Homo sapiens: one gene and its partner. The protein of the gene in region 2 interacts with the protein of the main gene of each other region in a biochemical or structural test. Each region holds a gene or a part of one and is shown on either strand. Other genes may lie near its edges. The genes, in order: POLA2 and HELB.

Region 1 (3,912 bases), on a different chromosome or scaffold from region 2:
AGAATGACAATCAGCTCCTAAACTTGGAGACAAACCTGATCTAGCTGTTTACTGCTTTCTCATGTGAAAAACTTTTTTTTAACCTCTTGAGATTGAACTAACTCTTGTTTGGCAAGAGGGGGACTGGTCTAGGCAGATTCCTTGTAAGGGACCTAACTCCAAGGCAGGCAGGGCTAAAGGGTGGCAGAGATCAAAATGACCCAATAGCTTCTTCAAGGTATTCCCAGCTGAGCCCACTTGGAGGTCATATCAGAATTTGGGAGGCAGAGGACAGGCAAGTGTACATATGAAATCTTCCCCAGGTCACCTCTATGTGGCCTGGTGAAAGCCCTCATTTGAGGGCCTTCCTAGTCATCTGGGCTCTCGTTCTCTTGGGGAGGGAGGAGAGGACACTGTTTACTCAAGCATTTTACTGACAGAGTTGTTTGTTTTCTGGTCCCACCACCTCCCCAAAGAAACAAGGCCACAGGGCAGGGTGCTAGAGGCCCCATCCCCATCAGCTGACCCATGAGGGGTGAGTGCCGGGTGGTCTAGAAGGGAAAGTCAAAGACTGGGTTCTGGTGTTTCTGGGAAAAAGCAGAGTTCAAACCTACCTTCACGAAGTACCTCAGCTCTGACGGGATGATGAGGACATCTGGGGTGACAGGCAGCTGTGCGTAAACATAGAACGACTCATAGTCAATGGCCATGTCTTCTTGGGGCGGGTAGAGTGGGTAGTAGCTACAGAGACAGAGAGAAATTGTCAGCACTAGCTGACCGGGGGGCCCCCTTCTCAGACAGAGTCCCCCTAGGTACTGGCTTTCGTGCTGCTGGCATCCACAGACCGACTTTTTCTCTGTGTGTGTGGGGCAGAATGCAGGCTTGTCATCACAGGGTAAAGTTCCCTGCTGGTAGCCTGGTGAAGGCTCTTACAGTCATGCTTGTCATAGCTCCATGACCCCAAGGCACTCTCTCCACAGTCAGGGGTCCCAGCGGCAAGCTCACCTCCTCTGGGTCAAGATGTGCTTGAGTATTCGGCTGAATCTGTCTGAAGTTCCGGAAGAACTGGGAAAGAAAAGAAAGCATGAAAACAGAACTCTGTTTTTCAGCCCATTTCTCTTCAGGGAGGACTGGAGAATTTAATAAACCAGAGAGAAGGTAAATGGCCAAGGCACAGCAACAAGAGGAGGATGCCTCTGGGGAAGTTTAAAGACCCACCCACAAGGAGCTCAGTCTGTCCCCACATGAGGAGGGACGCAGGACACCAGGTTGAGAAGGGAAAGCACAGGAATCCCTCATAATCAAGATCAAGGAAGGCCATTAGCCAGCACCGTACTGTGCAAGAGGATGCAAAGTTGGCACCATCATGAGGCGGGTGTGTAGCCAGGCTGACCTGAATCTCAAACCTCAGCCAAGGAGCCGCACCCGTCTCGCTTCACACGCGAGTCGCTTCACATGCCCCTTCCCATCAAGGATGACGGCAGAACGGAGCTGCCCAACTTCAACTCAACAAATTTGTCAGGGCCTGATTCTCTGCAGAGCTGGATGTTGTACTGGTAGTGAAGAAAATCCTTCAGAGAAAATTCCCAGTTTATCCTCCACAAACAGGATGTCCACATTTGTTTTCAGGTCACAAATTTGGGAAATGAAAAAAAAGGGGAGCAGAAAAGAAAATGTAGATGAATTTTGATGCCTTTAAGTGCAAAGACAGAATGGACGTGGTTCTTTGGGGTCTCAAACGCAGTTTAGAGAGGTGGTAACAGAAACTAATGCATCCAACCCCTCCCCTTGGGTACAGAGAAACTCAGATGGCTAGAGGGTCTGGCACAGCTTGCTGCTTTCAGCTCTCTCTGGTCAAGACCGTTAAGCAGCCCCTTGATTTTCTTGGCTGCAGAAAGGGCTGGGACCAGAAAGCCAGTCATCCTGCTTGGGGCCTGGAACACACTTCTTACCTACTGATCTCCTCGGCCCCCAGGTGGAAAAGCAGATCTGTGGATGTCAAGCCGAAGATCACTCCGTTTATGGAGAGGCTGCAGGGCTCGGACACAAACTGTACTTGCTAAAATGAGAACGGATTGAAACAAACATTTGTATGCCAAAGCTAGAAACATCTTCCCATGAAAGTGGGGGTTGTCTGAGGGCTGGGGAGACCACGGAAAGGGGGACCAAACCAACATACATCAAGCTTTTGGACACATTTGCCTGTTTAAAAAAAGGAGTTTAAGATTCAGGCTGTACGCACACCCTAAAGAGGCCTCTCCACCCTCCCCTTCAGGGCCAGAGCTAGTGGCAGAGGCATGCTGGATTCTGGCTGCCTGCTGGTCAAGGAGTGGGTGCTGCTACCTTTTTGTCCTCTCGAGACAGATCGGAGTAGCTGAAAGGCGGCTGGGGGTACACAGGCTCATGGTGCACATCTCTCAATGACGGGACAAAGACAAGGTGGGAGCCGGAGCTAGTATGGCAAAAGAACAAACAGAAGAGTGAGAAAAGTGAGTGCAGTTGAGTTAGAACAGCTGCGCAACAGGTGGGATGCCTCAGGCTGGAGGCAGAGCCCACCCCGAGGGAGGCAGCTCAGAACTGCACTCTGTTATGAACAGAGACGCTGTTTCCCATGGGACACTGGGAGTAAAGGACAGTTTGTTCTACTTCACACCCATCCATCTGGACAGGCTCCGATTGCCTGGGACACTTTCTTGTTGCTCTGTGTGGCTTTCTACTGAGAGGATGGAGACTATTTTTTGGCAGAAAAAGGGGCAAAGAAATGGAGATCTAGAAAGTCTAGAAAGACAAGGATGTGAATAAAGAATCACAGCCTCAGAGCCAGAGTTTAAACCACAGCTTGGACTCATTACACCTTCTAAGCAGGTGTAGCCTGCAGGCAGTAAACAGTGTCCCTGCCACACCTTGGTAGGGTGCATGGAGCTGGGGCATTTTTCCTAGGGAGAAGGCAGGCATACTAAAAAGACCCTGAGACTGCTTTTTTTTTTTTTTTTTTTGAGACAGAGCCTCACTCTGTCGCCCAGGCCGGAGTGCAGTGGCATGATGTGGGCTCACTGCAACCTCATCTCCTGGGTTCAAGTGATACTTGTGTCTCAGCCTCCCGAGTAGCTACAACTACAGGTGCACACCACCACACCCACCTAATTTTTGTATTTTTAGTACAGATAGGGTTTCACCATGTTGGCCAAGCTGGTCTCAAACTCCTGGCCTCAAGTGATCCACCGACCTTGGCCTCCCAAAGTGTTGGGATTACATGTGTGAGCCACCACACCTGGCCTGGCTTCGTATTTAGAAGATCCAGCTGAAACCCTCTGACTGACTGAACACTGGGCCATAATTACTGGACAACCGAGACACAGACATTTCCAGTGGGAGGCAGAAAAGCCCAAGCGGCCTCTCCCTGAGCCATCGCATCCCTCCCCTCTCACACATGGAAATAATGCCCTGAGTTTCTATTTCTCAGCAGGTTGTCATGCAAAAATGAAAGAAATATTTAACAGCAACAGTAAAAGCACAGATGACAGCAGATGTTTCCTTTGATGGAGCAGGAGAATCTCTAGGGTTACAACATACAAGTGAAGAAGAAAGTTGTAACTCTGGGGGCCAACTATTTATTTTTCCCAGCCACACAAAAGAGGAAGAAAGCCCCGTTTCCTTGGTTCCCTTAAGATGACCTTGGCAGAGGGGCCGTTTATAAATCAAATAGGCATAAGGTATTACTTTGCGGGCATGTTTAAAATCCACCAATAGCTCTCACTTCCATCTCTGTCTCTTGCTTAAAACATGTGGACTTCTCAGGCATACATACACTTTCACATGTGATAAAGGTGCTGGTGACAGCTGTCACCCTTATCACTGTTTGTGGTGTCCTCTCAGAGTGTGAACTGAGATGTCTATAACAGAAAATCAGAATCCTGAGACCAAAGGTGTTTG
Region 2 (3,912 bases):
GTGAGCTGAGATGGTGCCACTATAGACCTGTACCAAAAAAAAAAAAAAAAAAAAGGGAGGAGGAGTTGAACACCTGTGCTGTGTAGTGGCTCACATCTGTAATCCTAGCACCTTGGTAGACTGAGGCAGGAGGATCACTTGACTTTAGGAGTTCAAGACCAGCTTGAGCAACACAATGAGACCTTGTCCCCCCACCCCCCAAAAAAAAAGAGAGAAAGAAAAAAAAGTTTAACATCTAGAGATCTAGAGTTGATTCTTGTGCCCAAGTCATCATGTTGGTAACAAGAATATCCCATGTATATACTCATAAGTGACCCAGATTTGGGAAGCCAATGATAAGTTGCAGTTTAGATATGCTGAGTCTTAAGTAGCCAAGGGGCATCCAGTAGTGACTGACAGTGTTTAGGCAGTTGTTTGTATGGTTTGGAGATCAGATTAGGCTGAGTCATTAGCATGTAGGTGAAGGATGATTGAGGAAAGGATTATAGAGCAAGAAGATGCTTGGGATGGAGCCTTGGGGAATAACAGTACTTACAGGCAAGCAGAGGGGTCCAAGACTGTAAATAGCCAGAAAGGAGAAAAATCTGAGAAGGCAAGCTGCAAAAGCCCCGGCAGCAGAATGCTACAAGAAGAAAATACTTATCAGTATCAAATACTGCTGAGAGGTCAGGTAAAACAAAGGCTGAAAAGTATCCACTGGTTTTTGAAACGAAGAGGACAGTAAGTGTGACATTTGTCAGAGGAGATTCAATGTTGTGGTGGAAACAGTAGCCATGTGAATGTCAAAGGAATTCAACCTCATATAGCCAATCCTTGGAAACACTGGTGTTTTGTCAGCTGCAACAGTATTTCTTTTAAAAGCAACAAAAGTGGGCATTTTTCAATTGGTACCCAAAGGAAAAGAAATCAATTTTTATATTTTCTCCTATACATTTTTCTTAAATATTTGGTGCTAGTTGTCGTTTATATATATTTAAATATAGCATCAGGTGCTTTTGGATTTAGTAAATAGTGTGTGTTTAGTTATTTCAGGAATAATCCCAAAATAAACAGTATCAATACAGTAATGTAGTAATATATTTATGGTATTTCTTAAATAGTACCAAGACTTTCAAGTACCATCCTCATCAAGTAAGAGAATCATAGCCCCATAATAGTTTTTAAAACCACGTTCCTTTCTCTTCTATTTCCCTTCTCCTATTCCTGTCTATACTCTGGGCTGCAAAGAGACACTTTTGCCCCACTGTCAGCAGGTAGCAGCCCAGCTTAAATAAGTTTGGGAGACCAGGGTGTACTCACAGAGGAAAGGATAAAAATAACTTTGAATGTTATCTAATCCAGTGGTGTCCAAACCTAGCTGAGCATCAAAATGGACAGCCCGGAATGTACATTAAAAAGACAGAATTCTAGGTCCCTGCCCTAGATCCGATTCCAGAAGGGCATCTGCTATACTTTCGTTTTGGGAAGGTTGGGGTGGGGGTTGCTTTTCCAGGTTCTTCAAGCTCAGCAGAAGTGGACTTTCTCCCCGTTCTCTCTCCGCAGGAGATGCCGTGCACTGGCGGTTCTGCAGGTGCCACGCCTGTCACTCCCCAGCGCTGATTTCGTCCCAGCACCTTCCTGATAATCACCGCCCAGCACCAGGCTCCAAAAGGAGCGGAAGCCCCGCCCATCTCCCAGCCCCTCGCTCTCCCTTCCCCGCCCCTAACCCGCCTTGCCCCGCCCCTTCCACATGCCCTCCCCTCGGCAATTCCTGGAAACTTGGGGCGGAGCTTCGCTGCCTTTCAGGTTTTATGTACGCTGGCGGCCGCCAGGCCGTTCCCGGAAGTTGATGGCCTTACAGTCGTAGAACTGATTGGCTGATCATGACCATGCAGTTAGCCAGGGTTTTCCCGAGTTGTTTGGGTTGAGTTCAGGAGAAGCATGGCCAGGTCGAGTCCGTACCTGCGCCAACTTCAGGGACCTCTGCTCCCACCCAGGGATCTGGTGGAGGAGGACGACGACTACCTAAACGACGACGTGGAGGAGGATGAAGAGTCCGTGTTCATCGACGCCGAGGAGCTCTGCAGTGGGGGCGTAAAGGCTGGCAGCCTCCCCGGGTGCCTCCGCGGTGAGGAAGGCGTCTGCCCGGGGGATGGGGTTGGAGGGTCCAAAGTAGCGCTTCCCATTCTGGCTTTGCCCTGAGCAAGGCACCCAGTCGTGCTAACAGATTTAGCTTATCAGTGGTCTAGCTGCTTCATCCTACCAAGGGTAAAATTATGACTATAATAATAGCAGTGACTTTAACTGGACACATACTATGTGGTTTTTTTTTTTTTTTCTTTTTTTGAGCAGCAGCAAGATTTATTGCAAAGAGCGAAAGAACAAAGCTTCTACAGTGTGGAAGGGGACCCGAGCGGGTTGCCCTTTTTTTTTTTTTTTTTTTTTAAAATTATTCTCATTTTAATGGTCGTCCTTTAATTTAATGTACCTTTAATGTAAGGTAGTTTTACGCTTAAGGAAACAGTGGATGTTGAGTCTCTATTTCCACCCAGAATCGGAACTTTTATTTTTCCTTCTGACCACTTATCCTCAAGTTCTATAGAATGAGAACTTGTAATTATTATCCTATATTGCCTGGAGTCAAATACGTGGTTCTTCCTCAGCTTCTTGGAAAAACAAAACAGTCCGGGCGCGGTGGCTCACGCACTTTGGGAGGCCGAGGCAGGTGGATCACTTGAGGTCAGGAGTTCGAGACCAGCCTGACCAACATGGTGAAACCTGTCTCTAGTAAAACAACAACAACAACAACAAAACTACAAAATTAGCCGGGCGTGATGTCGCACACCTGTAATCCTAGCTACTTGGGAGGCCGAGGCAGGAGAATTGCTTGAACCCAGGAGGTGGGGGTTGCAGTGAGCTGAGATCACACCATTGCACTCCGGCCTGGGCAACAAGAATGAAACTCCATCTCAAAAAACGAAAAGGAAAGAAAAGAAAAAGAAAAACGAAACACAAGGAACACCTCAGTGCACAGATGATTGTTAATTGGTGTTAGTAACCTTGTGGTTCGGGTAAACCTTGTATAAGTAGTTTCCTGTGCTATGAGGTAGTTTCCTGTGCTATAAGTTATACCTGTTATGTATACTTTGTGACTGAGACTTAAAATATTTTAATGTGCCGACCGGTGCTGTTCAGTAGAACTTTCCATGATCATGGCAGTGTTTTATATCTGCACTGTCTGGTATAATAGCCACTAGCCATATGTAGCTGTTTAGAACTTGAAATCCAGCTAGTGTAACTGAGGAGAGAAATTTTAAGTTTTATTACATTTTAATTTAAATAGCCACGTGGGTGGACAGCGCAGATTTAGGCAGAAAAGTTTCAAGTATTTGTGGAGGGCTTAGTCGTCATTCTAAAGTATCATCAACTGGCTAGCATGTTTGGTGCTGGGAAAACCTAGAGAAATAAAATAACAAGGTTGCAGTCTTAATGAAGCTTACCCTCTAGTGTATTAAACAAACATTCTTTAATCACAGAAGTAACTATAATGTTACTAAATGCTTAGAAGGAATGCTAAATAGTGCTTTGAGAGGTTTTATACATGAGATTCAGGGAAGACTTTTCTAAGTAAGTGATAGTTAAGCTGAGGTCTGTAGTAAATGTAGTAAACAGTAAAGGGGAGATCAGTTAAGGCAGATGGAATAACTTGAGTGAAGGGCCATGGCATTTTAAAGAAACTGCATGAAGGCCAGTATTGGCTGAAGTCAAGAGTAGCAGAGAGGGGACTGATTTTAGAAGAGGAACAGCAGACACCTGCTGTGTACTGTGCTTGCGTTTTGGAATACAAAGACAAACGAAACAGTGTCCTGTTTTAGTATTTACAGTGTAGTGGAGGGAGACAGAAAAAGAGGTAGGCAGAATGCAGTGTTACAG

What was found.
Region 1: the proteins of HELB (region 2) and POLA2 form a complex in vitro, tested with the Homo sapiens proteins (one study listed by BioGRID).

What each region holds. Positions count from the first base shown.
Region 1 is NC_000011.10:65,292,672-65,296,583, reverse strand, and holds part of POLA2 (DNA polymerase alpha subunit B), read right to left. Parts: intron 2,812-3,912; exon of another isoform or gene 2,432-2,811; coding exon 2,323-2,431; exon of another isoform or gene 2,039-2,322; coding exon 1,932-2,038; exon of another isoform or gene 1,045-1,931; coding exon 985-1,044; exon of another isoform or gene 960-984; intron 721-959; coding exon 594-720; intron 1-593. UniProt on the Homo sapiens protein: Accessory subunit of the DNA polymerase alpha complex (also known as the alpha DNA polymerase-primase complex) which plays an essential role in the initiation of DNA synthesis.
Region 2 is NC_000012.12:66,300,684-66,304,595, forward strand, and holds the start of HELB (DNA helicase B), read left to right. Parts: upstream 1-1,809; 5' UTR 1,810-1,920; coding exon 1,921-2,107; intron 2,108-3,912.